Regions from separate parts of the Homo sapiens genome. Here regions 2, 3, 4, 5, 6 and 7 are each reported to be linked to region 1. The links are microRNA targets in miRTarBase. Many come from high-throughput screens and were not tested one by one. Region 1 holds a microRNA gene; each other region holds the end of a gene's coding sequence.
The links. Region 1 holds the annotated microRNA hsa-miR-4478 (GAGGCUGAGCUGAGGAG, at 2,750-2,766, opposite strand). A microRNA usually pairs through its seed, bases 2 to 8, with sites in the 3' UTR of a target mRNA and lowers its output. Matches are read on the target gene's strand: a 7mer-m8 pairs with bases 2 to 8, a 7mer-A1 pairs with bases 2 to 7 and ends in A, and an 8mer does both.

Region 1 (4,078 bases):
GGAAGGAGAAGTGCTGAGCACAAGGTGGGAAAGTCCCTCCCATCAGATCTCGTGAGAACTCACTCACTATCATGAGAACAGCATGAGGGTAACCACCCCCGTGATTAAATTACCTCCCACCGGGCCCCTCCCACAACATGTGGGGATTATGGGAACTACAATTCAAGATGAGATTTGGTGGGGACACACCCAAACCATATCAGCCGCCTAGCTCAAACCTTAGGCCCATAACCTTAATGGCTGGCCTCCAGGGCTTAAAAAGTTCAGGACTGAATGAGGCAATGCATGTAATGTGCACTGTATCTGGAATTATCTCAGTGCTCAATAAATGGTATTATTAGTCTCAACAAACCTCTGCAACCCAAATGTTGGCCCTTTATGCAGATACAACAGGTTGTATCTCCCGTTGTTTCTGGGTCAGCTAATGGTTATGGCAGTCAGGCACAGTGGCTGATGCCTGTAATCCCAGAGCTTTGGGAGGCCAAGGGTGGAGGACCACTTGAGGCCAGGAGTTCGAGACCAGCCTGGGCAACATAGTGAGACCCCTGTCTCAAAAAAAAAAAAAAAAAAAACCATGGCTATTGAATGACTAGTCTGTGCCAGTTATCACATTTAATCCCATGAGAAATTTCCCCGCCCAGGTTGCAGAGGAGAAAAGAATGACTGAGGGAGGGGAAGGGACTGGCCCAGAGTCACACTGCCAGGCACAAGGCCAGCACCAGGCCATGGGGCTGTCTGCTATAGCACGACCCTCAGCGGGACCTGGGTGCCCAATGTCAGGCTCTCTCTGCCTCTGCAAGAAATGTCAGGGAGAAGATGACCAAGTGGTATTGGACAGAATGGCAGTGATGCTGAGGAAGAAACCAAAGGTGAGGGCCCTCTCCCTTTGTATTAAACGAAACTTTCCAGGCTTAGGCCCTGCAGCCTGTACGGTGTCAAAAAACAATTGTCATAAGTTGTCGACACTTGGAAACATTTAAACTTATGAGGTTTCACATTAAAATCTGTATTACTGCCTTCCTTTACAAATCTGGAAGAAGGAATGCATCTGTATAGGTGGGTAAGAGCAGGGGCTCTGGAGTCAGACTACCTGGGTTCCAATCCTAACTCTGCCACTAGCTTGCTGTGTGTCCTTGGCTGAGTTACTTAACCTCTCTGTGCTCTGCTTCCTTCGTCTGCATAACGGGGATAATAACAGCACTTTCACCAAGATTGTCATGGAGATTAAATAAGAAAGTGCCTATACAGCACTTCTTTAGAACAGCACCAGGCACAAAAGAAGCATGCAAAATGTTAGCTGGTGTTATTTGTAACTTTTTTTTTTTTTTTGAGACAGGGTCTTTCTCTGTCACCCAGACTGGAGTGCAGTGGCACAATCATGGCTCACTGCAGCCTTGACCTCCTGAGCTCAAGTGATCCTCCTGCCTCAGCCTCCCAAGTAGCTGGAACTACAGGCTTGAGCCACCGTGCCTGGCCGTTTGTATCATTATTTACAGTGTTTAGTATTAGGCAGTGCTGCCCCTGGATTCTGTCCCAGGCAGAGCTGAGTAATAGCTGCCCCTTTAGATGAAGTGTGACCTCTTCCATTGTCCACAGCCCACAACCCCAGGGACCAAGGCTGAGGTCCTAAAAAAGCCAACACTGTGTAGGGGCCTGACTCCTGGCTGCTATGTGACTTTGGACAGTCACTCCCTCTGTCTGGGCCAGTGTCCTCACTTATAAACCAGAGGCACAGGGCCCTGAAAACATTATGCTAAGTGAAAGAAGCCAGACACGGAAGGCCACATAATGTCTAATTCCATTCCTACCAAATGCCCAGAATACGAAAATCCATGGAGACGAACAGTGAATTAGTGGTTGCAGAGGCTGACGGAATGGGGAGTGACATCTCATGGCCACAGGGTTTCTTGTGGGGTCACAAAAATGTTCTGGAGCGCCATAGTGGAACCGGTTGCACAACCTTATGAACACAGTCATGCGTTACTTAATGATGGGGATACGACCGGGCACAGTGGCTCATGCCTGTAATCCCAGCACTTTGGAAGGCCGAGGTGGGCGGATCACCTGAGGTCAGTAGTTCGAGATGAGCCTGGCCAACATAGCGAAACCCCATCTCTACTAAAAATACAAAAATTAGCTGGGTGTGGTGGCACGTGATTGTAATCCCAGCTGCTCAGGAAGCTGAGGCAGAAGAATTGTTTGAACCCGGGAGGCGGAGGTTGCAGTGAGCCGAGATCGTGCCACTGCACTCCAGCCTGGACGACAGAGTGAGACTCCATCTCAAAAAAAAAAAAAAAAAAAAGATGGGGATACATTCTGAGAAATGTGTCACCGGGCAATTTTGGTGGGCAAACTTACATGAACCTAGATGGTGTAGCCTACTGCACAACTAGGCCACATGGCATAGCCTATTGCTCCTACACTATAAACCTGTACAGCATGGTACTGTGCTGAATACTGTCAGCAATTGTAATGCAATGCTAAGTATGTGTGTATCTAAATATATCTGGATGGTTTCCCTGCAGGTAACAGCTGGCTCTGATGTCCTAAGGAGACCCCAGCGCCATGACAAACCCAGGGATCTCTGATTGCTCCCAGCCTGAGTCGCTTCATATCCTACATGGGAGGCTGAATCCACAATCCCTCCTGCAGACGTACCCTCTCCTCTCCCTTGTCCCTGCAGAGGCCAGGGCTGCAGGGGATGAGGCTCGCCCCTAGTACTGCATGACCCTGTCTACAGGTTTGGAGGCTCCTCAGCTCAGCCTCGGCCCCTGGGCTCTTGTCTTGCTAAGCCCAGAGACCCAGCTCCCACTGGGCTTGGTGGCTGCTTGAAGTGGATCATGCCTTGCACCTCCCCCTCCTCTCCAGAATCTTCTATGTGTGCCGAGACTCCCAGAACAGGAGACATTTGGCTACATCACCCAAGATGGTGCCCACTTTCCATTGCCATGGGTCTAAGAAAAGGTGAAGTTCCCTCCCCCAGCCCTTCCCTGCCTGCTGAGGGATAGGACATGTGTCCCCATTTGCAGTGGATGCAGGGAGGGCTGGAGAAATGCTCTGTGCTCTGAGTAAGGCATGTTCCCCTGTAAGTGTGCCCATGACAGCTTGTGTATGCATATGTGCATGTATGGATATGCATGTTTGTTGGCAGGGATCTGTGCACATTTGTAGGTCTGCCTTTCTACCCGTCTTGTGTTCTGGACTGTGCACATATCTGCCTTGACAGACTTATCAATGTTCACACACTGGCTACACCTGTACCTTGTCTATATGTGTGGCTGCGTGCGTGAGTCTGCTGGAGCTCAGCACTTGTGTGGCTGAGCTGTTTACACCTGTCTGAATATGAGGGGTGTGTTCACGTGTCCCCTGAACGCACACTAGTGCATGTGTCCCTTCTGTGTGTGTCAAGGCAGGCCGCACGGCCATGAGGACCATAGCCCAGGCCTTGGAAGTTTTCCACGAGCTTAGACTCCAGCACCCACTGCACATGGCAAATGGCACCAGTGACCTGCCGTGGAAGGCACAGATGCCAGAGGGCACCACTACTCCAGCAGGAGCAACACCAACAAGGCCAGCACCAGCCCCACCCATGGCCTCCAGAGATCCTGGAGCCTGGAGGGCCCAGACGAGCTGGCAGCTCCAGGCTCCAGGCTCCTCAAGGTCCCACAGACAGGCCAAAATCCAGACAGCGGGAAGGGACAGCACAAGCCGGAGCCTGGGGACCAGAGGCAGTTTGGGGGTGCTCCATGGGGCCACACCCCAAGCCTGCTCTACATATTCTTCTAGGGCTCCAGAAGTGGGGAAAACCACAGGTGGGGAAGGCTGCCCCACAGGTGTACAGGTACAGGTGTGAGGCTGACATAGGTGGGTGAAGGATCAGAATCAAGAAGAGGAGATACTTCCTGCCTGATGAGTCTCTAGCTGTCCCCTCCAGGGCGCAAAGCCCCAGCACCTCCTTCTCTCCTGTCTTTGGGGCACCCAGCCATGGCCCCAGCCCCTTGGGCTCCAGCAGCAGCAGCAGATACAGGAGGCTGAGGCTCAAGTGAGAGTGGCTAGAGGGCAAGTGAGCTGAGCAGGT
Region 2 (4,078 bases), not on the chromosome of region 1:
TGTTTATTCAGCATGGTCTTCACAGTAATATTCCTTGTCTCTCAAAGCTATTATATATTGCTTTGTCTTGGCCAATTACTTCAGCAAGTACTGAGAACTCATTTTCTACCCTGCCTCGTCTTAAGACATATTTATGTAATACCATGGGACAAGAGAAGCTTACTGGCCCAGCCCTAATGGCTGTTGAGCAGGAGTTGGTAAATAAACTAATGGAGCCTGAAAGACTCAATGAAATTGTGGAAAAGTTTATCAGTCAGATGAAAGAAATATAATACATGCTCATTTGAACTTACCTAAAAGACTTGTATTTCCATTGGGATGTTTTCATTTCAAAATTGTTCAAAATTCAAAAGACACAGAACGATAAACAGTGAAGTCTCCTTCCCTCCTTTAGAACTCATTTTCTCTTCCCAAAAAGTGTTATCTTTTCCTTAAATATCCCTCTAGAGGTATTTTTCCTAAGTGGTATTGTACGGTGTATACTGTTCTTCAGCTTGTCTTCTCTGTGTAACATATTTTTGAGATTGTCCCATGTCGTTACATGAAGAGTTTCTTGATTCTTGGTCTATAATTGCAGATGTTATTGTATGAATGTACCATAATATATTTGAGCAGTCCCTGCTGACATTTTTTTCCTAACCTTTTGCTATTATAAATAATGATTCATTTTATAACCTTTTATATAGGTCACATTGCACATGAGTGAGTTTACTGTAAGCTGGAAATCTAAAGTTAGAATTACTAGGTTAAGATATGTGCATTTTTACTTTTGATAGATATTGGCAAGTTGCCATCTATAAGGATTGTGCCAGTTTACAGTCCCACCCACAATGCATGAGAGTGCCTATTAAATCTTTGTAAGTGTTATCAAATGTTTTGATCTTTCCTAATCTCTTACTTTAAAAATGGCGTTTTAATCTCAGTAGAATTTTGTATATTCACTTAAGAATAAGGTTGGGGACTGGGCGTGGTGGTTCACACCTATAATCTCAGCCCTTTGAGGGCCTACACAGGAAGGAAGATCGCTTGAGGCCACGAGTTCAAGATGAGGTTGGCAACATAGTAAGACCTCATCACTACAATTTTTTTTTTTTTAAATTAGTGAAGTGTGGTACTGCACACCCGAAGTCCCAGCTACTTGGGAGGCTGAGGCAGGAGGATTGCTTAAGCCCAGAAATTTGAGGCTGCAGTGAGCCATGATTGCACCACTATGCTCCAGAGTCTAGGCAACAGAGTGAGACCTTATCTCTTTAAAACAAACAAGAATGAAGTTAGGTATCTGTTTATTTGTTTGAGCCATTTGTATTTCCTTTTTTGTAGACTGTCCTGTTTAAACGTTAAAATCACTGCTGTGGTTTTGATTTATACATCTCAGCTGGATGGCACAATAAATTATTAAGCCATGTTATGAAAATATAACTATATTTAAGTAACCTGCAAAGAAAAGACTATTTCTTTATACTTCAAAAAAGTTTTGTTTTTGTTTTGAGATGGAGTTTTGCTCTTGTTGCCCAGACTGGAGTGCAATGGTATGATCTCGGCTCACTGCAACCTCCGCCTCCCAGGTTCAAGTGATTGTCCTGCCTCAGCCTCCCAAGTAGCTGGGATGACAGGCGCACGCCACCACGCCTGGCTAATTTTTGTATTTTTAGTAGAGATGGGGTTTCACCATGTTAGCCAGGCTGGTCTTGAACTCCTGACGTCAGGTAATACGCCCACCTGGGCCTCCCAAAGTGCTGGGATTATGGCATAAGCCACCACGCCCAGCCAGAAAAGTTTAAATAACAAAGAAAATGTGATATTCAAAGATTTGAAAGAATTAAGTGGTATATATATCTAGGCCTGGAATTTTTTTTTTTTTTTTTTTTTTTTTTGAGACGGAGTCTCGCTCTGTCGCCCAGGCGGGAGTGCTGTGGCGCGATCTCCGCTCACTGCAAGCTCCGCCTTCCGGGTTCACGCCATTCTCCTGCCTCAGCCTCCCGAGTAGCTGGGACTACAGGCGCCCGCCACTGTGCCCGGCTAATTTTTTGTATTTTTAGTAGAGACGGGGTTTCACCGTGGTCTCGATCTCCTGACCTCGTGATCCGCCCGCCTCGGCCTCCCAAAGTGCTGGGATTACAGGCGTGAGCCACCGCGCCCGGCCTTTTTTTTTTTTTTAAAGACTATTTCTCTGGCACTTTTCTCCAGCTGTTTCTCCCTTACCCTCTCATCAATTTTGATAACTTGTACTTTTTCTAGGAGAACATCTATTTCATTGAGGCTTTCTTTCAAATGCATTTGCCTAGAGTTGTAGAAAATATTCTCAGTATCTTCTATATACCTGTTTTACTTTCTTTCTTTCATTTTTTAAGACGGAGTCTCGCTCTGTTGCCCAGGCTGGAGTGTACGGTGGCGTGATATTGGCTCACTGCAACCTCCACCTCGCGGGTTCAAGTGATTCTCCTGCCTCAGCTTCCCAAGTATATGGGATTACAGGTGCCCACCACCACGCCTGGCTCATTTTTTTGTATTTTTAGTAGAGATGGGGTTTCACCATGTTGGCCAGGCTGGTCTCGAACTCCTGACCTCAGGTGATCCACCCACCTTGGCCTCCCAAAGTGCTGGGATTACAGGCATAAGCCACCATGCCCGGCCCTAATTTATTGATTTCCACCTTAAAAAAGAGAAAACAGGCCTGGCGCAGTGGCTCACACTTGTAATCACAGTACTTTGGGAGGCCGAGGCGGGCAGATCACTTGAGGTCGGGAGTTCAAGACCAGCCTGACTAACATGGAGAAACCCCGTCTCTACTAAAACTATAAAATTAGCCGGGCGTGGTGGCACATGCCTGTAATACCAGCTACTCGGGAGGCTGAGACGGGAGAATAGCTTGAACCCCAAAGGCTGTGGTTGCAGTGAGCTGAGATCGTGCAATTGCACTCTAGTCTGGGCAACAAGAGAGAAACTCCGTTTCAAAAAAGAGAGAAAATAGGCTGGGGACGGTAGCTCACGCCTATAATCCCAACACTTTGGGAGGCTAAGGCAGGCGGATCACAAGGTCAAGAATTCAAGACCAGCCTGGCCAACATGGTGAAACCCCATCTCTACTAAAAATACAAAAAAAATGAGCCAGGTGTGGTGGTGGGTGCCTGTAATTCCAGCTACTCAGGAGGCTAAGGCAGGAGAATCACTTGAACCCAGGAGGCAGAGGTTGCAGTGAGCCAAGATCGTGCCATTGCACTCCAGCCTGGGCGACAAGAGTGAAACTCCGTCTCAAAAAAAAAAAAAAAAAAGAAAATAGAAGTTAACTCTAGTATTGAATGTGTGTTGCATATATTTTCATTCTTTTAATGGAAGTGCTTAAGGCTATGAACTTTCCTCTAAAGTCAGCTTGGTCAACCATGTGTTTTTTCATTTTCATCATTTTCTAGCTGTTTTTAGTTGTAGTTTCTATCTTGTCATAAAATCAAGAAGTTGGGCCAGGCATGGTGGCTCACGCCTGTAATCCCAGCACTTTGGGAGGCCGAGGTGGGCGGATCACGAGGTCAGGAGATCGAGACCATGGTGAAACCCCGTCTCTACTAAAAAAAATTAGCCAGGCGCAGTGGTGGGTGCCTGTAGTCCCAGCTACTGGGGAGGCTGAGGCAGGAGAATGGCGTGAACCCGGGAGGCGGAGCTTGCAGTGAGCCGGGATCGCACCACAGCACTCCAGCCTGGGCCACAGAGCAAGACTCCATCTCAAAAAAAAAATCGAGGTTGGTGTTCTTGTTTTCATTTTCAAGTGTTTGTTTTCTATTCTTGTAGTCTATTATACAGCCAATAATGTAAAAAATAAACTTACATTAAGTATAACAGCTATCTTGGTTGAATGCCTATTAGCCTATTAAGTAACCTAGTACTTCCCTCAGTGTTTTACATATATTATTTCATTTAGTTCTCATAACAACCTATTATTTTACAGAAGAAACTAAAAAAACACATTATGGATTACACAACTAATAGGGGTGAAACTGGATTTGTACCCAGGTAGTCTGACTCCAAAGCCCATGCTGTCAATCACCATGCTCTACTACCTCTTAGACAACCATTATCACTTATA
Region 3 (4,000 bases), not on the chromosome of region 1:
TTTTCCATCTTTGGTTTCGTTTTGTTTTAGCCACCCAACTTACATGGCTCTCAATTTTTTCTCACTGCTAACTTTTTTTTTTTTTTTTTTTTTTTTTTTGGTAGAGACAGGGTTTCACTATGTTGGTCAGGCTGGTCTCGAACTCCTGACCTCAAGTGATCCACCTGCCTCGGCCTCCCAGAGTGCTGGGATTACTGGTGTGAGCTCACCACTAACTTCTTAATAAGCCTCTTTCCTGATCGATGCTATTTTCTCTGATGTTTCCAGCTCTGGATGGATCCCAGATGGACGAGGTCGATGGGTAAAAGATGAAAATGTTGAGTTTGACTCTGATGAGGAGGAACCACCTGATCTCCCCTTGGACTGATACCCTTTTCCCATTCATTCACAAATAAATTACAATGGGTGCTGAGAACTTAACTTTCCTTAAGTCTGGTTCCTTGTTGGATCTCAGGATTTCAGATCTGTTCATTCTCATTCCAACTACTCCTTGCCTGCAAGGTACACAGCTCTCCACACTCCTTTTTTTTTTTTTTTTTTTTTTGAGGCAGAGTCTCGCTCTATCGCCCAGGCTGGAGTGCAGTGGCACGATCTCGGCTCACTGCAAGCTCTGCCTCCCAGGTTCACGCCTTTCTCCTGCCTCAGCCTCCTGAGTAGCTGGGACTACAGGCGCCCGCCACCATGCCCAGCTAATTTTTTGTATTTTTAGTAGAGACGGGGTTTCACTGTGTTAGCCAGGATGGTCTCGATCTCCTGACCTCGTGATCCGCCCACCTCGGCCTCCCAAAGTGCTGGGATTACAGGCATGAGCCACCGCACCCAGCCACGGCTATCCATACTTCTAACCCCTCCCCCACCTCCTACCAAAGCCATGCCAAGCGTCAGCTGCATCAGCCTGGTGCCCTATTAATAAGACTGTCAAAAAGAGGTCTTTGCCCTTCATGTTGTCTGCCTGCTTCTCCACTACCACTCAAAGTCCTTTCCCCCTTCAAATCACATAAGGACTGCAGGTAGGCACTAGGGGGACCTGGCCACATCTGGAAACAGGGCTGTGGCTAAGTTCCCTGTGAAAGTAGAAGAGTCAAAAGGCATTGGCAGGGTTATGGGGAACACCAAGGGAGGGAACACCCCCACCTCCTCCTAGTAACCTGAACCTCCCTGCCTGCTGATCCCCAGAGTATAAATAATCCCCTGGTGAACTGGCAGTAACCCTTGGGGGTTAGCGCCAAGATTCTCACCCCAAAGCCCAAGGAAGGAGGCAGGCAAAATGGATAGAAGGGCTTTTATTTACAGGAAAGGAGGACAGATGAGGATTTAAGTGTCCAGTGCTCCCAGCGCTAGTTGGTAAAGGGAAATGCAGTGTTATCTCTTCTTTTGCTGGCGACCTGTAAAGGAGCAATATTAAACATAAGTGTTTGTTCCAGCTCCTGCTTTCTGCAAAGGCACTCTTCTCCTTTCCAGTCCCTTAGCCAAACTCATAAATTGGTAGTGTCTTAGGCCACCTTACAGGCCCATCCCACATTAACAAAACAAAACAAGAAACCACACCACAAATAAAATTACGATACCTCTAAACAAGTATGATTATCTCTGGCATCCTTTCTACCTCTCTACTGGTCCATATTTGGGGCAGGGGGAGTTTTCTGTTTACTTTCTGATCACTCTTGGGATTTGAAATTCTCATATGAATAGCTCTTTGGTAGCACCCTGGGCTGTTAGTCATTAGGTCTGCTTTCAGGAGGATCCACCAATTTCTGCACTTCCCTGACCACTCCACACATCATGTCTGCAGTTACTCACGTAGTTCATTGTTTCGGGTCATGGCCTGGGCTGCCCGAGCTCGTGGCCCCTGCTGTGTAAAGTGGTAGCCAAAGCGGACAATAGAGGGACACTGCTCTAGCACGGTGGCCATCTCCATCTCCACTGCATCACCAGGCCACTGGCGCTGGGGGAGGGAGAGGCAAAAGCTGACAGTCACCCTCTCTGGGCTGTTTACCATCCCACATCACAGACCCCTTTGGGAGGTCAAAGAAGCTTGTTTCTCCACAGTGGGTGAAGAGAGATGCTGACTTGGCTTCCCTCACAGAGACAATGAAGAGGAGAATTCAAGCAAGATTAAGTAAGATAGCTGCCCCACTGGCTGGCTCAGGGAGGAGACTCAATGAGACTGAATGCTAACATCAGGGGAAGGGAATGCTGACCTGATTGTCTACACGGAGCTCAGTGAGTGTGGCATTTTCCCGAACTGCCTTCAGCACAGCCATGAGTCCTGTGCTGCTAATGAAGTTGGATTCGATGTTTAGGCTCTGGAGGCTACGATTCTCACGCAACATGTCAGCCACTGCCTGGGTAGTAGGGACTTGGGTTAGGATTAGGGAACAGTTTCACAGATGACTGAGGAAAGAAAGAACAGGAGCAAGAGGGAAACACAGCTCTTTGAGAAGAGTCTTTCAGGTGCTGTAAATGGAGCTAGAGGGATACAGAAAGCAGGGCGGATAGCAGGGGAAAGCAGGGAGATGAATGTGCAGTGGGACTAGGGGTGTTAGAGAGAGTAGAGAGTTATGAGCCATAGCACTGAAGGTAGGAGTCTCCATGAGGGCTGCCCTAAGAAGGCATGATGAGAATAGCACTCCCTAGCAAAACCCTTTATGACAGCCATGCAACAGGTGCATGTAAGATGTGGGGAGAGGGCTGGGGATGTCAACTAGCCTTACATTGGCAATGGGGTCACCACTCCTCGTGGCTACCAGACTGAAGCTCCGCACATAGGTATTTGCCTTCATTGCCTCACACAGCTCACTTAGCATGGGTATTGGGATGTCCTATCGGAGGGGAATAGGAGATGGTGGGCTAAGGGACTCTCGGATGTCAGTGGTTATCCGGTGTTATGGTTTGGAGGATGCAAGTCAAATACCTGTATATTATTCAAGTTCACCTCCTCCAGCTCCTTGTCATTGCTTCGGACCCTCTTTAGTATCTCCTCAATGTTTGTGGGATTTGGGGGTTCATCCGGCACTGGCTTATACTTGTCAGGCTGTACCACACCTGGTGAATGAGGGCAGGAAGGGAACCCCAACATGTTCCCCATAATCTCCTCCCCATTGGTTTTCTTTTCTTTTCTTTTTTTTTTTTTTTGAGATGGAGTCTCGCTCTATCCACCTAGGCTGGAATGCAGTGGCACAATCTCAACTCACAGCAGCCTTGACCTCCCGGGTTCAAGAAATTCTTGTGCCTCTGCTTCCCAAGTATAATATCTGGGATTACAGGCATGCAACCAGCTAATTTTTGTAGTTTTAGTAGAGACAAGGTTTCACTATGTTGGCCAGGCTGGTCTTGAACTCCTGACCTCAGGTGATCCACCTGCCTCGGCCTCCCTAAATGCTGGGATTACAGGCATGAGCCACCTCACCTGGCACTCCACAGGTTTTCTTATCACTCATGCAGCATGTCCTCTCCCAGAATCATCAATTTCACCCTTTTCTACCTTCTCCCAGACACTAGGACTGCCTGCCCAGAGCCCTGGGGACCATGCTCCCCAAACACACTCACTGCTAATGCCTTCAGTGTTGCAGATTTCTCCACTGCAGAGGGCATCATAGTATTGCTTGTTACTCATCAGTGTGTACATGTCCAGAATTGCTGGAGAGGGTAAGAAGAGGAGTCACAGGGAATGAGAAGGAACCTGTTCCAAGCCTCCCTCCTACCTATTTCTGAATCTGTTGCATTTGTAAAGCCTGACCACTTACACTTTGCCAAAGAAGTTTCCCACCCTCTTTCAGCCCCAGGGGTCCTTTCCATAAACTTCTTAAGGCAGTAGTTTCTAAAACATTGAGAAAGGGCTAAGGGAAGGTCCCTTATGAGCCACTAGAGGATAAAGGAGTCTGTAGAGACTCTCCTCTTTCAGCCAGAATGGTTCCACTTTTTTTCCCCCCGAGACGGAGTCTCACTCTGTCCCCCAGGCTGGAGTGCAGTGGTGCGATCTTGGCTCACTGCCACCTCC
Region 4 (4,078 bases), not on the chromosome of region 1:
CACAAGAATCCAGAGCCATTAATTCCCTCAGCATTCACCACTGACCAGTCCCCACCCTTCTGTTTCAGAAACCGGTCCCAGGGCTGGAAGGCCTCCAAGTTCCACTTCCCTCAGTAGCTCCCAGCCACTCACCTTGGCAGTTTCTTAAAGGACACAGAGCCAAGCTCTGGAGAAAACAAAGAAGTCACAATCACAGGAGAGTCAAAATTCCCATTGGGTGACAGCGTTTATTGAAAGGAAATCTTGCTTTATCCAGGAATTCACTCACATGGAGGTAGCTGCAAGGAGAATGTCTCTTTCTCATGACAACCAAAGCGACCAAACCATACCCTAAAGCAGAGACGCAATGGAATAAGTCAACGGGCATTGTAGAACGACACTCAGAAGCAGGAAAAACCATAAAAGATACAGGATGATTGTCTCTTCAGTATTGCATTTGGCCATGTATGTGTTTTTACATAAAATATATGTTTTCTTTTTAAGCTAGCTAAAGAAAATACTCTTGATCGGGGTTAGTTCTTAAAGCAAAAAACAGAAGAAAAGTATGTATATATAATAAAATTAAAGAACGATAGCATGTTATACCTGGAAAGGACCGTGGGCACTAATCTGCACTTTGTTCCAGGTAATCCATGGCTCTGAGAGTGAGCACACTGTCAAAGTCACTGGGGTGAGATGAGCCGGGACTTGAAAACCCTTCTCTTAACTTTCAGTCTCAACTCTTCCCACTCCACTATACCGCATGCGTTGCCAACTCCCTCAGAGTGTAGGATAGCGCAATTGTCAAAACGCATAACAGCCTATTTTTAGGGTAATGATGCAAGTGTTTTGAAAAGTGACCTGTGTTCTCTTTGCATGGGCAGTTTTGCTTCTTGTAGCCAGCCCCATGGCTACTGGAAAGAACTGGCCAGAATGAGGGGCAGCTACTTTCTCACAAACCAAAACAGACACACACTCCCAAAGTTCTTGGGTGTGCTGACCTTCCCCAGCAGCGTCTCTAGGTATGAGTGGGCTGAGGCTTCTCTCAGCAGGCTTACTGGCAGATGTCTAACGATGGGAGAAGCAGCAGGGAAATTATGAACATATTGAGGGTCAAAGTGAGCTCTAGGGAACCAGGCTTGTTGCGTCCTCAGAAGGACAGACAGAGGGCTGAGTACAGAGGTGCTCAACCTCCATGTCGATTTGATTGTCATTTATCACCCCCTTTCCTGACACTGAGCTCCAGGAGGGGAGGAATTTTTGCCTGTTTAATTCACTGCTGTATTCTGTGTGCCAAGGACTGTGCCTGACACATCACCGATGCCCAATAAATATGTGCTAAATGAATGAATGACTAAAGGGAGGAATCGGCCACACCCCACATAAGCAGGCAGAGGTGAGAATCACCCCTGGCTGTGGTGAGGATGACAGTGACCCTGTAGATGTGGAAGGGGCTTGGCTGTCTGGCTCCAGACTCCCACCCTTAAACTGGGCTGACCACTCTGAAACCTGCCGGGTGGGCTCTGACCTGGCACAGGTGGGACTCCATGGCTACTGTCATGGAGTCCTCTGGCCCACAGGCCCCCACCCTATTGGGATGGTTGGGGACACTGCTGAAGCAGCTGAACACTACCATCTCTGCCACATATATGTCACCAACTCACAGGGTCCTCTCCCTGACCATGTCCTGTCCCATATTCTGACCTGTGGAAGCCCAGCTGTGACTGGGCCTGGCCTGTGGGCATGCCTGGGGACTGTCACATTGTGAAGTGACACAGGAAGGCCAGGAGGGAGTCCCTGGATATGTAGCATCCTCCCGATGCTATGCTCCCTGAAATTCCTCTCCAGCCATGTGGCCTGGCCCCCAGACCTCAACCACTCCCTGCCAGCCTGCTGCTGGCGATGTCGCTTTGTTCCAGGAAGTTGGAAGGAGTCCTCCAGTTTGCACAGACACGCCTCTGCCTGACTTCTGTTTCTTTCTTCCCTTCCTCGACATAACCCTGAGATCCTGCTCAATCCACCTCTTGCCCACACATCCCCCAGCTTTCAAGAACTTCTCTGTCTTCCTTCTCACACTGGGCCCCATACCCACATCTGCCTATCTCCTCTCTCATCTCCCTTCCCCCATGACCTTACCAGACACCTCCCACCTCATTCTCACACCTAAGTCTATGAACCTTTCCCCCATACCCTCTTATTCCCCCGATCCCAAAAGCTTGCTGTGGGACATGACCACACAGCCCTATCCTTCCAGAAACGGCCTCATTTGTTTAAGGCCTTACCTACAACTCTCCCTACCCAACCTGTGTAAAAGAAATTGCAATCAGTGACTGGGAACAGGTCTCAGAACAGTTCAGAAATTATAACAGAATTCCAGATAAACTAAGCAAACAAGGCCATAGCTGCAGTCACAGACACAAGCAACCTTCTGGCTTTCCCCTGTGCCAGTGACTTGTTTACCCAGACCATGTGAACTGCTATGCTCAGTCTTAGCTGTCCATGACCACTACAATTCTTCTTTTCCAACTTTGGTTTCCAAACTGGTCTTTGACTTTATTTGACTTTCTCTCTCTCTCTCTCTTCTCACCTCTGCTCCTCAACACTTAAAATCTAATAGCTTCATATTTTAAAAAAGAATACTCAATGGCTGGGCGTGGTGGCTCATGCCTGTAATCTCAGCACTTTGGGAGGCTGAGGCAGGTGGATCACCTGAGGTCAGGAGTTCAAGACCAGCCTGACCAACATGGTGAAACCCCGTCTCTACTAAATACAAAAAATTAGCCAGGAGTGGTGGTGGTCATCTGTAATCTCAGCTTCTTGGGAGGATGAGGCAGGAGAATCACTTGAACCAGGGAGGCAGAGGTTGCAGTGAGCCAAGGTTGCGCCATTGCACTCCAGCCTCGGCAACAAGAATGAAACTCCATCTCAAAAAAAAAAAAAAAGAATACTCAATATAGATGCATGAACTTTACAAACCAGCCACCCTACCAAGCCTCCATCACATTCCAAACCCAACAGCAGCAGTTCGTGAGAAGGTCTGGTTTAAAATATGTACAAGCTATACATGGTTTCCTCCCTGCACAGTGCTATTAAGTAAGTCCTAGCCTTCTGGACCCTTTGTCTTGGCAGGGGGAGTGATGAGGGGGCAGGGACAGCAATGCAAATAGTGGCTGTGGAACAGGGGCCTCAGCCTACCAAAGTGTATCTCTCACAACACCCCAGTGGGTGGTGGCTCCTGGTCCTCAGGCATCCCAACATTTTAAACTGCAAAAGCTCTCTGTCGAAGACCCACTGAGAGACCCTGGCGAGGAATGTAACACTGAGGAGCTGGCATGCTGTGCAAAGAGGCTGTGATTGGTCTCAGTGGCAGACAGATGCTCCCCTCCCTGCCTCCCACTTTGGGTGGCTGCAGCTCCTGCAGGAATGACAGGTACTTCCACAGCCCGGGAGAGCACTCAGATCTGGCTGGCGACGGTGCTGTCCTTGGAGAATGTGTAGCTCACAGGCGCCTCATAGAGGCTTCCCCCATCCGTGCTGAGGTCATCGTCGTCATCCATGTCATCCAGCACTTTACTCGGCAGCTTCTTCAGTCTGCTGAAATGACAAGGGGCATGTTTCCTGGCCCTGGGCCGGGGCCCATAGCTAATTTGGACTTAAAGGGAGGGTTTTGGGTTGCTGTCCCTGCACCCCACTGAGTGGCACAGAAAAGAAACACATGAATGTAACAGGTCTCCACCTGATGGCCCCTTCAGCCACAGGGAGTCCACCGCCCCCATTTCGGCACGGAAAGCCTGTGCTGGTGGGGTGGGCCAGGCTGGGATAGGATCAGTATTGTTGATTTCCCCAGGCTGTTATTATTGATCTTGTCTTAATTTAAAATTTTGGTATCTTGTTCACCATGGATTGCATGCATTATCTTTTAAATATTGCATTAAAATGTTATCTATCTTAATTATTGAGATTTTTGGTGCCCTCTTAAATGCTGCACCCTAATGCCAACCTTGGGGCCAGTGACCTGATAGGCCCTGTTTTACAGGACTCTCAATGGGCTGGAGCCTTCTGTCCATTGATGAGAACTACCCGGGCAGCCAGCAAAGAG
Region 5 (4,078 bases), not on the chromosome of region 1:
AGTGCTGGGATTACAGGCGTGAGCCACCGCGCCTGTCCTGCCAAGACAGTATTTTTTTTTTTATTTTTGAGATGGAGTCTCACTCTGTCGCCCAGGCTGGAGTACCGTGGCGCAATCTCAGCTCACTGCAAACTCCGCCTCCTGGGTTCACGCCATTCTCCTGCCTCAGCCTCCAGAGTAGCTGGGACTACAGGCACCTGCCACAACACCCAGCTAATTTTTTTGTATTTTTAGTAGAGACGGGATTTCACTGTGTTAGCCAGGATGGTCTCGATCTCCTGACCTCGTGATCCGCCCGCCTCGGCCTCCCAAAGTGCTGGGATTACAGGCGTGAGCCACTGCGTCTGGCCCGAGACAGTATTTCTTAACAGCAATGTATGTAATGCAGCACAGCACCTTCTGGCCAATGTTTGCTTTCATTATCAATTTATCACTCTCCACAGCTACACAGGTGGTAACAGAGATGTGACATAGTGGAGTTTTTCTCCCTAATGTTCATCATTCTGTGAGGTTTAATGATCAGCGTGTTTATTTCCACAGTTAATCATTGAAACAATAAATGATTTTTGGCTTTGCAGCAGTTAGGAACATGTTTTATAGTCCTGATTATAGCCCACTCTGCCCTGACCATCATGAATACTTTTTTGGAGGTTTAGGGATTTCATGTGAATGAATTTATTTAAAATGTATTCTTGCCCCTGAATTGTTCTATTATGAATGTTTGTGAACATATGGCAAGTGAAATGAAATTTTTTAGTGTACTTTTGCTTTAAACTTCAGTGAAATGCTCAGCCAAGAGAAGTTGTAACTTGGCTGTGCTATGCCAGGGAGACCAAATTCAGTTCAATCTCTTTGAAGGAAAAGTTTTACAAACCATAAACTGGCATTATCACTTGGAAAGGCCCCCACTGAGACTGAGGAGGTAGGTACAAGAAAGGATCATCCTTCTTTTAGTGGCTCATTTTTTCCCTCCCTCTGCACTTTCGGCACTTTTAGACATTTTTGGGAAAAAAGCTGTAGCAGCAGCAATGATTCTGCTGGCAAGAATAAGAAACTGGAGAGAAGCAAAGAATATTTCTGTGCAGATGTCCCTTGCATTGTTTCTGTTCCAAGAACATTATTTATATAAAGACTCACAGAATCAAAGATTCACGGAGGCTTAGAATCTGGATGTTTTATCCCCAGAGACTAAGGTCCATGCACAGGCTTACTGAAGCACAGTACTGATTAAGAGCTTAAATGTTTATTTAAAACAGAAATGCCAAACCACTCCACTCTCAACCTTTCAAGCAACCTGGCTAACAATAAACTAGTTCTTCTGCAACAATGTTAGAGCAGAGGAGTAACTCAGGTTATACTGTAACTCAAAAGCAATACTACTAGAAAACTTAAAACACCTAGCACTGCATAAAGAAAAAAAGCAGGACAAAATTTAAAGAGAATTAGCTACAGAAAACCATTCAAAGGCATTTCTACTGCCTCATCTTTTACTCCATCCCCCTTTGAACTGGTTTCTGTTTGCATACTTGTTTGGTGGGAAAAAAAATCATATGGCTGTCCCAGGCACAATATGGGAAAGTGCAAACTGTCTCTAAGGCACAGAACTTAGATTCTCAGCCAGATTAATAGCAAATCTAGACTTCCCAAGGGAATATGCTAGAGAAAATGACCACAGCGTTCCACTGCTAGGGAAAGGCTCCCCTATGAACAAGACCAGGGCACTCACCCACCCCCGGCACTCACTTTCACCCCACCTTCTCAGCAACCTGCCCATGTCCATCAGCTCCATGGCAGAAGCAATCCTCATGATGAACACCCAAACTGACCCAGCCTCTCAGGCCTGCTGAGATGATGAGCATGAGGATACAGGGACATGACAGGTCAATCGGTCCTCAAGAAAATCAAAGTTGCATTTACATGCTGAACCAAAACCCACTGTTACAGTTTATGACAACCCCCGCAAGTCCCCAGAACTTGCAACTTTAATCAAAGTTTGGCTGCTTCCCTTATTTCAAGAAAAGGTTTCAGTGATTACATTAGTACTAATGTACTAGGCTTCCCAGAACTGAGAAAACAATGGGAACATCAAACCAAAGAAGATCCCATTGAACAGAGTTGCCTGTCCCGAGCAATGGGGTTCTCCCCAAGCATCAGCCTTTATGCCACCAGTTTTGGAGAAATGGCAAAATTTCCATTGCACAAGACCTCCCACAATGTTGATAAGATTATCAAACATTTTGGTCTGGGGAAGATGAAACAAAATTAATTTAGCTGTTTATAGGAAGGTGGGATGTGAGACTCATCAAAGGTAGGATGTGTGACACAAAATACCACAGGAACATTTTACAAGGCTAGGTGGAAATACAAAGCTCACATCCTTAAGGAAACCATCAAATACTTGCCTAGAACTTTCTATATGAAGTTTTGTTCTTCTATGACACTATTTCTCTTTGGTAAAGCTAGCTTGTTTCTATCTACAAAGACACAGTGAGTACAGGATTAGAAGTGAGCTCTCAGCCAAATTCCTTTTGCAAGTTCTACCTGTTCTGTTAGGCTTCAGGGACTCCCAGGGTTTGGTGCTGGCTTTGGGCCACTCAGGTAGGAAAAATGATACAGATTCATTCGTTACCACATGGCTTCATAAAACACCAAAAGGGGAAAAATACTGACTAGACATTCAGAAAGAAAGTGGTTGGGGCTGCTGATATCAAGATCAGAACCCTAAGAGCCATGAAGGCAGAGGCTCAAAGAAGTCTTTTCATGGGCAGAAGACTGAGAGCCCTCTAAGCCCTCTCTAAGATACCAAGTAGAGGCAGCTAAAGGAGGACCTCTTCTCCTTCATGATTTTCTCTTAAGGCTATTCTGACTGCCCCATGGACTCAATTCTCTGAGACACCTCATCCCTCAGAGACACCTCATCCCCTCATCCACAGTTAGGAAATCCCACCCTGCATTGGTCACAGCCTGAAACACCAGCTGTGTGATGAGGAGGGTCCTGCCCTTTCTCTATTCCTCACTGAAGAAATTTCAATCAACCCTCAGAGGAAAAGCAACCTAAGCCTACCTTTCCTCCTAAAGCATTTAGCTGCACAGAGTAACTGAACTTTTTCGAAACAAGCCCTAGATTGACTCCATCAGACATATTTTCCTGGACTCAGGGCTCCCAAGAGGGCCAGACTACTTCACCACTCTGCAGAGGACACTGGGCGGGCCACACCTGATTCCAGCCCACTCCAACTTTACACTTCTCCCTCTCCCACCCAGAGGGGTAATGCCTGGTACTGAATTCCCAAGGCAGCTTCCAATCAATGGTGAAAATGATACATGGGATATAAGCTGCTACCAGCGCAATTAAGGTGAGCACTGTGTCTCCTCTTCAAAGGTGGGATCAACAGATGAGGTACAGAGCTGCTGTTGCTATGGCAGTCACTGATGACAAAGCCAGGGCCATGGGGGCCCTTCCATTCTCCAAAACAATAAAATCACTCCTAGATCCTATCTAAAAGGCAATGCCACTCTCCAAATGTACAAGGAAAGTGCTTCAGAGCCTCTGCCTTGCGCTCCTTTTCTGCAAGTGAACAAAGCCAGGAAAGCTGCTCTCTGCATTCGGTAAGTGTGCTGTGAAGTTCTTTGGGTCCCAGTCTCCTGGGGGCTCTACAGGCTCAGGAGACTAGAGGCTGGGTCTACAGGAGTCTGTTCCCAGGAGGCACCAGGAATCTGAATCTAAGTCAGGCTTTGGATCCATTTCCATCTCTTCCTTTGCTGTCTGAGTTCCTTTGGAATGCATCCCCACCTGTCCGGATAAAACACGGTTCCACATTAGCAACAGTGCCACCTAGTCACAGAAGTAGTTCAGTACTATATTTTCAATGCCAACTTCTAAGGCATTGGCTAAGGCGTGGCTAAGGATTTGTAGCCACGATCTTGTGAGACGCTCATGGCACTATTTTAGATACAGTCCATACCTTTATATTTACTGCAGGTAGGGTGACCAACTATCCAGGTTTGTCCAGGACTGCGGGGTTTCCTGGGATGCAGAACTCTTAGTTTTAAAATGGAAAAAGTCCTGGGCAAAACA
Region 6 (4,078 bases), not on the chromosome of region 1:
TGGGGATTGGGGACATGGGCCCAGACAGCTATGCGCTGGTTCACAGTCTGCTATTTCATTAAGAACCGTAGGAAATGTAAAAATAAGGCAAAGGAATACAAATGAATTGAAAGGGTTCTAGAATATCCTTTTTAGGAAAGCAAAGGGACAGGGAAAGTGTAGTTGGTGAAGCCTGATCACTCATGTTCCAAGATGAGAGGACAAAAATTCACTTAGAGAAAGTTGACAGAGGTAGTCAGACATCAGCATAGTCATCTCCACTGAAAGTTTGGCTGAAAGGTCAGGGTGGCGCTGAGGGGACAGCAATGAAACCCACCCGCACCGGGTGCTCCTTCGCCGTTAGAGCTTCCTGCGACTGCAGTGGTGGCGGCGTGTGGTTTCGCTGCTTGGTAACAGTGAGCACAAACCCACCCTCTCTTCTCTTCTCAGAATTTGAGGTTAACATCGTGGTGCTGCTTCACCCTGACCACCTCATCACGGAGAACTTCCCGCTGAAGCTCTGCAGGATATAGCCCGGAGGAGGGAAGCATAGAGAACGGGAGTGGCCATCTGGAAATCCAGCTGGTTATCCAAATCCTAAGGGGAGCTACAGCCAGCGGCATATACTTGTTTTTGTGATTATTCTGTATCAGAAATGAAACAGACCCTCAAATTAACTTTCCTTCCTCATTTCTTGAGGCTTCTGCTTCCAACAGGCACCTCTAATCAGACCTTTTCTTTGAAATTCAACAAGATTTCTTAATGCTATTTGCCAAGACCATTTCACAGAAAACATTGACTGTGGCTCTTGCCTTATCTGTTCCTTTTTAGGTACAGTAAAACAATTGTGACAGCAGTTTGAGCTTGCTGGAGAGTGGCATCATGGGGACAAAAGGAAACCTCTGACTTGCTAATGGATGTAGCCAGGGACTCCCCATAGCAAAGGGTCTGTGGCCAGTTGACATCCAGGATGGCTGCAAGCGCACTTGATGGTCAGGAAGTTTGCAGATACTCGCCAAGGCAGAGCGCAAAGTGCTAGCCACTGGAAATGCATGACTTCCCTCCACCCCTACTCTATTCTGTAGTTTTTTGGTTTTGTTTCTGAGACGGAGTCTCAGTCTGTCACCCAGGCTGGAGTGATCTCAGCTCACTGCAACCTCCACCTCCCAGGTTCAAGCGACTCTCCTGCCTCAGCCTCCCGAGTAGTTGGGATTACAGGTGACTGCCACCGTGCCCGGCTAATGTTTGTATTTTTAGTAGAGACGGGGCTTCACCATCTTGGCCAGGCTGGTCTTGAACTCCTGACCTCGTGACCCACCCGCCTTGGCCTCCCAAAGTGCTGGGATTACAGGTGTGAGCCACCACACCCAGCCTCTGTAGTTCTTTTTACAACATTTTTCATTATAACTTTAAATTTTTTAAGCAACTGGAAAAGTGTTCCTTGCTCTCTTGGGGGGATTTGGCTGGTGCCGAAGTGTTTCTGAAGTCTCAAGAACTGCCATAAAATCTCACGCTGCCATTTCCCTGAACAGATACATACATAGAGAGAGACAGTTTTCCAAACTGTGTCACGCAGGCTGAGTGCACTGGCAGGATCACAGCTCACGGCAGCCTCAACCTCCCTGGCTCAAGCGATCCCTCCCCTCAGCCTCCTGAGTAGCTGAGACTACAGGTGAGTGCCACCACACTCAGCTAATTTTCAAATTTTTTGTAGACAGGGTCTCCCTATGTTGCCCAGGCTGGTCTTGAACTCCTAGACTCAAGTGATCCTCCTGTCTTGGCCTCCCAAAGTGCTGAGATTACAGGTGTGAGCCACTGTGCCCAGCAGTTTCCCAGAATATATTTAAATGCAAAGTTACATGAGGGGAAAACATGTATGTTTGCTCCTGTTGTTACTGGGTAGGTTCTGAACAGCAGAAACCCATGTGCAGGGTGGGCTGGTGAAGGCCCCTCTCCGCAAGGTGGTAGCAGGAAAAGGTCCTTGACTTGATGAATTTGGTCTGCCTCTGAGCCACTGGAGGAAGCTGTTTTGAGCCAGGGTTTTTTGGCCTAAAGCCAGCATTTCCTCAGTCTCCCTTTGTGGTTCGAAGGATATGGACTATTGCAATACATTTCTTCCTTCAAATCCTGCCACTGTTTTGTTGGCCCACAACTAATAGGACCTCAAAATAAGCCATGCTGCTTTGCACACACACTAGCCTTCTTTTGTACTTTTCATTCTGGATGGGCTTGGCCAAAACAGGCTCAGGCCAAAGACCTCCCAAGCTGTATGTACTTCCAGTATCCTGAAACAGTGTTTGGTGACATAATGCCAAGGGTAAACAAGCCTGATTTAGGCACTGCTTTATCCAGGGGCTTCACCCATGAAATTAATAAAACTTATCTGAGTCACTTGAAACTTGGTTCCCAGAAAACACATTTCTGGTTTATAATCTCCTTTTATGCTCACCTGACATTAATTATCTATCCTTGATGATGTGTTTAAACTGAGTAGCAGAAAACAGAGGCCACACTTTCTGGGAAATTTTAAAGGAAGAAACCATTTTTAATGAGATGAAAATATTTAACGAATTTAAAAAGCTAATGACAATTTTGAGAAAAGGTTTGGGATGTATATTGCTATGTAATTTAATAAACTGATTTTATGGATATAAATATGACTGCTTTCCTTAGAGAATAATTATTACCTGAAGCGCATCCAGACAACGTGGCTACCTTTATCATTTCATTCAACCCTGAGTGGCCCAAACAAAGGCCTCAGGCCGGCCACTTCCTTCCACTTCTTGGTCTGACCTCTCCATGATCTGTTACTAGGCAAAACTCAGATGTTTGGCTACCTTGGGCTGCAACTGTCCCACTCTTGCCCAGGCTTGCTGGAGTTGGGGTTATCCACAGTCAGAGGTTCAGAGTTGTCAAATTCTCCAATTAGAGCAAGAGATGAGGAAAGGAAAGGGAGACGAAAGAAAGAGGCTGTGCCTCAGAAATAATAACGCCGCATATCTACAACTATCTGATCTTTGACAAACCTGAGAAAAACAAGCAATGGGGAAAGGATTCCCTATTTAATAAATGGTGCTGGGAAAACTGGCCAACCATATGTAGAAAGCTGAAACTGGATCCCTTCCTTGCACCTTATACAAAAATCAGTTCAAGATGGATTAAAGACTTAAACGTTAGACCTAAAACCATAACCTAGGCATTACCATTCAGGACATAGGCATGGGCAAGGACTTCATGTCTAAAACACCAAAACCAATGGCAACCAAAGGCAAAATTGACAAATGGGATCTAATTAAACTAAAGAGCTTCTGCACAGCAAAAGAAACTACCATCAGAGTGAACAGGCAACCTACAAAATGGGAGAAAATTTTCGCAACCTACTCATCTGACAAAGGGCTAATATCCAGAATCTACAATGAACTCAAACAAATTTACAAGAAAAAAACAACCCCATCAACAAGTGGGTGAAGGATATGAACAGACACTTCTCAAAAGAAGACATTTATGCAGCCAAAAAACACATGAAAAAATGCTCATCATCACTGGCCATCAGAGAAATGCAAATCAAAACCACAATGAGATACCATCTCACACCAGTTAGAATGGCGATCATTCAAAAGTCAGGAAACAACAGGTGCTGGAGAGGATGTGGAGAAATAAGAACACTTTTACACTGTTGGTAGGACTGTACACTAGTTCAACCATTGTGGAAGACAGTGTGGCGATTCCTCAGGGATCTAGAACTAGAAATACCATTTGACCCAGCCATCCCATTACTGGGTATATACCCAAAGGACTATAAATCATGCTGCTATAAAGACACACGCACGTGTATGTTTATTGCGGCATTATTCACAATAGCAAAGACTTGGAACCAACCCAAATGTCCAACAATGACAGATTGGATTAAGAAAATGTGGCACATATACACCATGGAATACTATGCAGCCATAAAAAACGATGAGTTCATGTCCTTTGTAGGGACATGGATGAAATTGGAAATCATCATTCTCAGTAAACTATCGCAAGAACAAAAAACCAAACACCGCATATTCTCACTCATAGGTGGGAACTGAACAATGAGAACACATGGACACAG
Region 7 (4,078 bases), not on the chromosome of region 1:
TAATCCCAGTACTTAGGTAGGCCGAGGTGGGTGGATCACAAGGTCAGAAGTTTGAGACCAGCCTGGCTAACTTGGTGAAACCTTGTCTCTATTAAAAATACAAAAATTAGCTGGGAGTGGTGGTGCGTGCCTGTAGTCCCAGCTACTCGGGAGGCTGACACAGGAGAATCGCTTGAACCTGGGAGGCGGAGGTTGCAGTGAGCCGAGATTGTGCCACCGCACTCCATCCTGGGCAACAAGCATGAGACTCCATCTTAAAAAAAAGAAAAGGGAAAAAGGGAAGGAGGGAGGGAGAAAGGGAAAGAAGGAGGGAGTAGGTAGGCAAATCAGTCTAAAAGGTGAACTTAAAAACAAAATAATTCGAGGCTGCCCCTGGGTGTGGCAAGAAAAAAATTTAGAAGAAAAAGAAAACAAAAGAAAATCTATGCCTATTTAAATCTCAAAAATAGAAATAACTGATCAATACTGAAAGGTAACAGTTATAAGATAAGGTTGAGCAGAGTTCTAATTGAATATCTATTCTGTCTTCTCTATACCTCTCATGACCCCTGTATTTGGGGAGAGCTGAGGGAGGAAACTATAAATTAAATGCCTTTCAGCTGGATGTGGTTTCTCATGCCTGTAATCCTAGCACTTTGGGAGGCCGAGGTGGGTGGATTACTTGAGGCCAGGAATTCAAGACCAGCCTGGCTATCATGGTGAAACCCTGTCTCTACCAAAAATACAAAAATTAGCCAGGAGTGGTGGCGGGCACCTGTAATCCCAGCTACTCTGGAGGCTGAGGCAAGACAATCGCTTGAACCCGGGAAGCGGAGGTTGCAGCGATCTGAGATCATGCCACTGCACTTTAGCCTGGGTGACAGAGTAAGACTCTGTTTCTACAAAAAAAAAAAAAGACTTTTACGCAAAGGAACAAAGTACCTTCCAATCTGCAATAATAACTCTTGAATATAACAATTTATAAAGATAGGTGTTGTATATTGATGCTCATCTTGTGTGTCTAACATTTAAAAACCTAGTGAGTTCAAATACTAACTGTATACTGAAAATATTTTTACAATAAAATATGAGTTCACAGTTGTTATGCTAGGAATCTCAGAGCATATAGTAAAATTAGTTTCAGGTATAGAAATACTTAAATCTATTTTTTCTTTCTGCCCATTTCCACTTTAAGATTAATGGGAGAGAAATAAAATGATTAGTTTGAAAATAGATTATCTTGAGAATTTTTCTACCATAATAATAAATAAAGACAAAAAAGAAGTCATTTCTAAATAGTTACTTGAATACTGTCAGGTGGTTAGTAAACTCTTCTCACACAGAAGGAAAACATAAATCAAAACATTCCCAGTCTTATCTGTAAACCTTGTTAAGCAATAATAAATATTGCCCAATGCATGACAGGAGTCCACACTGTTTTCCACAGAACACCGAGATGATTACCGCAGTGCCTTCTCTCCTGGGAACAGTGCACCTCTACCATAGATGCAGTCCTCTTCACTAGGCTTCTTGAATAAGATCATTCAGAAACAATTCACTTTTGGGCCAGTTGGGGTGGCTCATGCCTGTAATCCCAGCACTTCGGGAGGCCGAGGCAGGCAGATCACCTGAGGTCAGGAGTTCAAGACAAGTTCAAGACCTGTCTCTACTAAAAAATACAAAAATGAGCTGGGCATGGTGGCACACGCCTGTAATCCCAGCTACTCAGGAGGCTGAGGCAGGAGAATCACTTGAGCCCGGGAGGCGCAGGTTGCAGTGAGCAGAGATCATGCCACTGCACTCCAGCCTGGGCAACAGAGCAAGACTCCCTCTCAGGAAAAAAATAAATAAATAAATAATTCACTTTTAACAAGCAAAAATATATTTCTTTTCTTTCTTTCTTTCTCTTTTTTTCATTTTTTTGAGATGACATCTCGCTCTTGTCACCCAGGCTGGAGTGCAATGGCACGATCTCAGCTCACTGCAACCTGTCTCCCAGGTTCAAGCGATTCTCTTGCCTCAACCTCCCGAGTAGCTGGGATTACAGGTGCTTGCCACCATGCCTTGCTAATTTTTGTGTTTTTAGTAGAGACGGGGTTTCATCATGTTGGCCAGGCTGGTCTCGAACTCCTGACCCTCAGGTGATCCACCCGCCTCAGCCTCCCAAAGTGCTGGGATTACAGGTGTGAGCCACCATGCCCGGCCCAAATATATTTCTTTTCAAAAGAATTGTAAACCTACTCAACTGACATAAAACATGTCTATAATAAGAAATGGCAATAATCATAATACTATATTCTTAGTTGACTGTCCTATGAAAGAAAAGTACCTAATACCTGTGTGAGTGTTTTTGGTAAAGACAGAGTTATCACCTTTTCTGCCTTAAGAATATATATATTTCTGGCTAAGCACAGTGGCTCATGCCTGTAATCCCAGCACTTTGGGAGGCCGAGGCAGGCGGATCACCTAAGGTCAGGAGTTGAAGACCAGCCTGACCAACACAGAGAAACCCTGTCTCTAATAAAAATACAAAAATTAGCCGGGCATGGTGGCATGCGCCTGTAATCCCAGCTACTTGGGAGGCTGAGACAGGAGAATCACTTGAACCCGGGAGGTGGAGGTTGCGGTGAGCCGAGGTCATGCCATTGCACTCCAGCCTGGGCAACAAGAGTGAAACTCCGTCTCAAAAAAAAAAAAAAAAAAAAAAAAAAAAAAAGAATATATACATTTCCTTTAGAGACAGGGTCTTGCTGTGTTGCCCAGGCTGGACTCATAATCCCGGGCTCAAGTGATCCTCCTGCCTCAGCCTCCCAAGTAGCTAGGACTACAGGTGCATGCCACTGCACCCAGCTAACAATATATTATTTATTCAAATCAACCTGCTACCAACAAGGTGTAGTGTTCCCGATTTCAACACTTCAAAAAATCAAAATTTACAATTCAATTAATAAAAATAACACCTCAGCAAAAATCATATTTTCACATTCTTTAAAAAAAATCCAGTCAATACCTTATTTTGAAGTCACATAACACTGACTCAAATCATGATAATCGGTTGACTTTCTACTTTAACACAGTAGCTTCATTCCTGGCATCTATTTAAAGGCTCGGTACAAAAGACTGAGGCAAAGAGCAGGGTAAAAAATCTAAAACTTTCACATCAAATCTTAAGATGTCAACAAACTACAAAGCAAATCAACAGATACTGACACATCAGATGAAAGAAAACCATAACTGCCAACTTTTCAGTTGAATCTTGTAGGTTTTGATCCGCCACTGATCTCAAGTTAGAATAAAGTCCATTACTATCAGAAACAAAAACTGTTTACATAAGATCCTATAGCCTCCATGACTTTAAACGGAGGGGACTGGAATCTGCTTGGCTGAAGTGCTGTCATATTCCTGCACTAAGTCATTAGTGGTGTGATAATGCATGGCAATATATGAATTGGCAAATCCAAAAGAGTTTACTGGCTGTAAGTTACATGGGCTGCTCTCCTCCTGGGAAGGGCTGCTGTTATAGATGCTGTAGTAAGGTTCAATCCGAGTGTTGATGGGGGTCGAGCTGCTCTGACCACAGTGTTGATGTCCAGCAGAGATCTTGGGACTCACCATACTTTCTTTTGAATGACTTGGGCCACAAGCCTGGTCCACAAATTTCTTCTGTGGCTTTGGAGATAACATGTAGGCAGAGTTTGTTTCATGATGGGAGGATTTGTTTCTGTTGACTTCGAGGTTCCCTTTTCCCATGGCTCGAAGTCGAGTCTTTTGTTTGCAGCAGAAAAAACCCAGGCCTATGTATTGGAGGCACCAGAGCACTTTCCTTCTCAGCCCTGCACTGTTCCGAGAATATATAAAAGGGTTTAATCCTGACTTGAAAAATATAAGAGTAAATCCAAACAATTCAAACTGGTAAAGAATGAAGCTCCCATTGCTGGAGAGAACCACCTGTACCAAGGAAATCCCCAGTGGAAGACAGCACACCAGGACTGACAGCACAATGATCACACAGGTGACCACGGCTTTGGAATCCTTGGCAGTGGAGAGGTTGATGGCTGATACGAGCTGGAGTCGGCTTGCTGCAGGGGTGACCAGTTGG

Region 2: the mRNA of ZMYM1 is a reported target of hsa-miR-4478. The part of its 3' UTR that is shown has no 7-base or 8-base seed match.
Region 3: the mRNA of SCNM1 is a reported target of hsa-miR-4478. Seed matches in the 3' UTR shown: 7mer-m8 at 642-648 and 7mer-m8 at 891-897.
Region 4: the mRNA of CGNL1 is a reported target of hsa-miR-4478. Seed matches in the 3' UTR shown: 7mer-m8 at 2,668-2,674.
Region 5: the mRNA of NEK9 is a reported target of hsa-miR-4478. The part of its 3' UTR that is shown has no 7-base or 8-base seed match.
Region 6: miRTarBase lists VPS26C as a target of hsa-miR-4478. Seed matches in the 3' UTR shown: 7mer-m8 at 1,170-1,176 and 7mer-m8 at 1,624-1,630.
Region 7: miRTarBase lists GPR75 as a target of hsa-miR-4478. The part of its 3' UTR that is shown has no 7-base or 8-base seed match.

Annotation. Positions count from the first base shown.
Region 1 is chr9:122,117,398-122,121,475 of GRCh38, forward strand. It overlaps MIR4478 (microRNA 4478), which reads right to left and starts at 2,770; the gene lies at 2,685-2,770.
Region 2 is chr1:35,114,988-35,119,065 of GRCh38, forward strand. ZMYM1 (zinc finger MYM-type containing 1) reads left to right here. Exons shown (of 10, transcript NM_024772.5): 10 at 1-872. The coding sequence ends at 272. Among named protein-coding and RNA genes, the nearest start is that of ZMYM1, 38 kb to the left of the region's middle.
Region 3 is chr1:151,168,719-151,172,718 of GRCh38, forward strand. SCNM1 (sodium channel modifier 1) reads left to right here. Exons shown (of 7, transcript NM_024041.4): 7 at 268-1,578. The coding sequence ends at 367. TNFAIP8L2-SCNM1 (TNFAIP8L2-SCNM1 readthrough) reads left to right here. Exons shown (of 7, transcript NR_144937.2): 7 at 268-1,578. TMOD4 (tropomodulin 4) reads right to left here. Exons shown (of 10, transcript NM_013353.3): 5 at 3,550-3,639; 6 at 2,915-3,045; 7 at 2,715-2,822; 8 at 2,202-2,345; 9 at 1,801-1,945; 10 at 1,269-1,385. The coding sequence ends at 1,363. Among named protein-coding and RNA genes, the nearest start is that of SCNM1, 4.6 kb to the left of the region's middle.
Region 4 is chr15:57,546,847-57,550,924 of GRCh38, reverse strand. CGNL1 (cingulin like 1) reads right to left here. Exons shown (of 19, transcript NM_032866.5): 19 at 208-3,570. The coding sequence ends at 3,435. Among named protein-coding and RNA genes, the nearest start is that of GCOM1, 43 kb to the left of the region's middle.
Region 5 is chr14:75,080,894-75,084,971 of GRCh38, forward strand. It overlaps NEK9 (NIMA related kinase 9), which reads right to left. Exons shown (of 22, transcript NM_033116.6): 22 at 1-3,793. The coding sequence ends at 3,671. Among named protein-coding and RNA genes, the nearest start is that of ZC2HC1C, 13 kb to the left of the region's middle.
Region 6 is chr21:37,221,978-37,226,055 of GRCh38, reverse strand. It overlaps VPS26C (VPS26 endosomal protein sorting factor C), which reads left to right. Exons shown (of 8, transcript NM_006052.2): 8 at 430-2,634. The coding sequence ends at 512. Among named protein-coding and RNA genes, the nearest start is that of DSCR9, 16 kb to the right of the region's middle.
Region 7 is chr2:53,849,801-53,853,878 of GRCh38, forward strand. It overlaps GPR75 (G protein-coupled receptor 75), which reads right to left. Exons shown (of 2, transcript NM_006794.4): 2 at 3,112-4,078. The coding sequence ends at 3,334. The region is part of intron 1 of GPR75-ASB3 (GPR75-ASB3 readthrough); the gene reads right to left. Among named protein-coding and RNA genes, the nearest start is that of MIR3682, 2.6 kb to the left of the region's middle.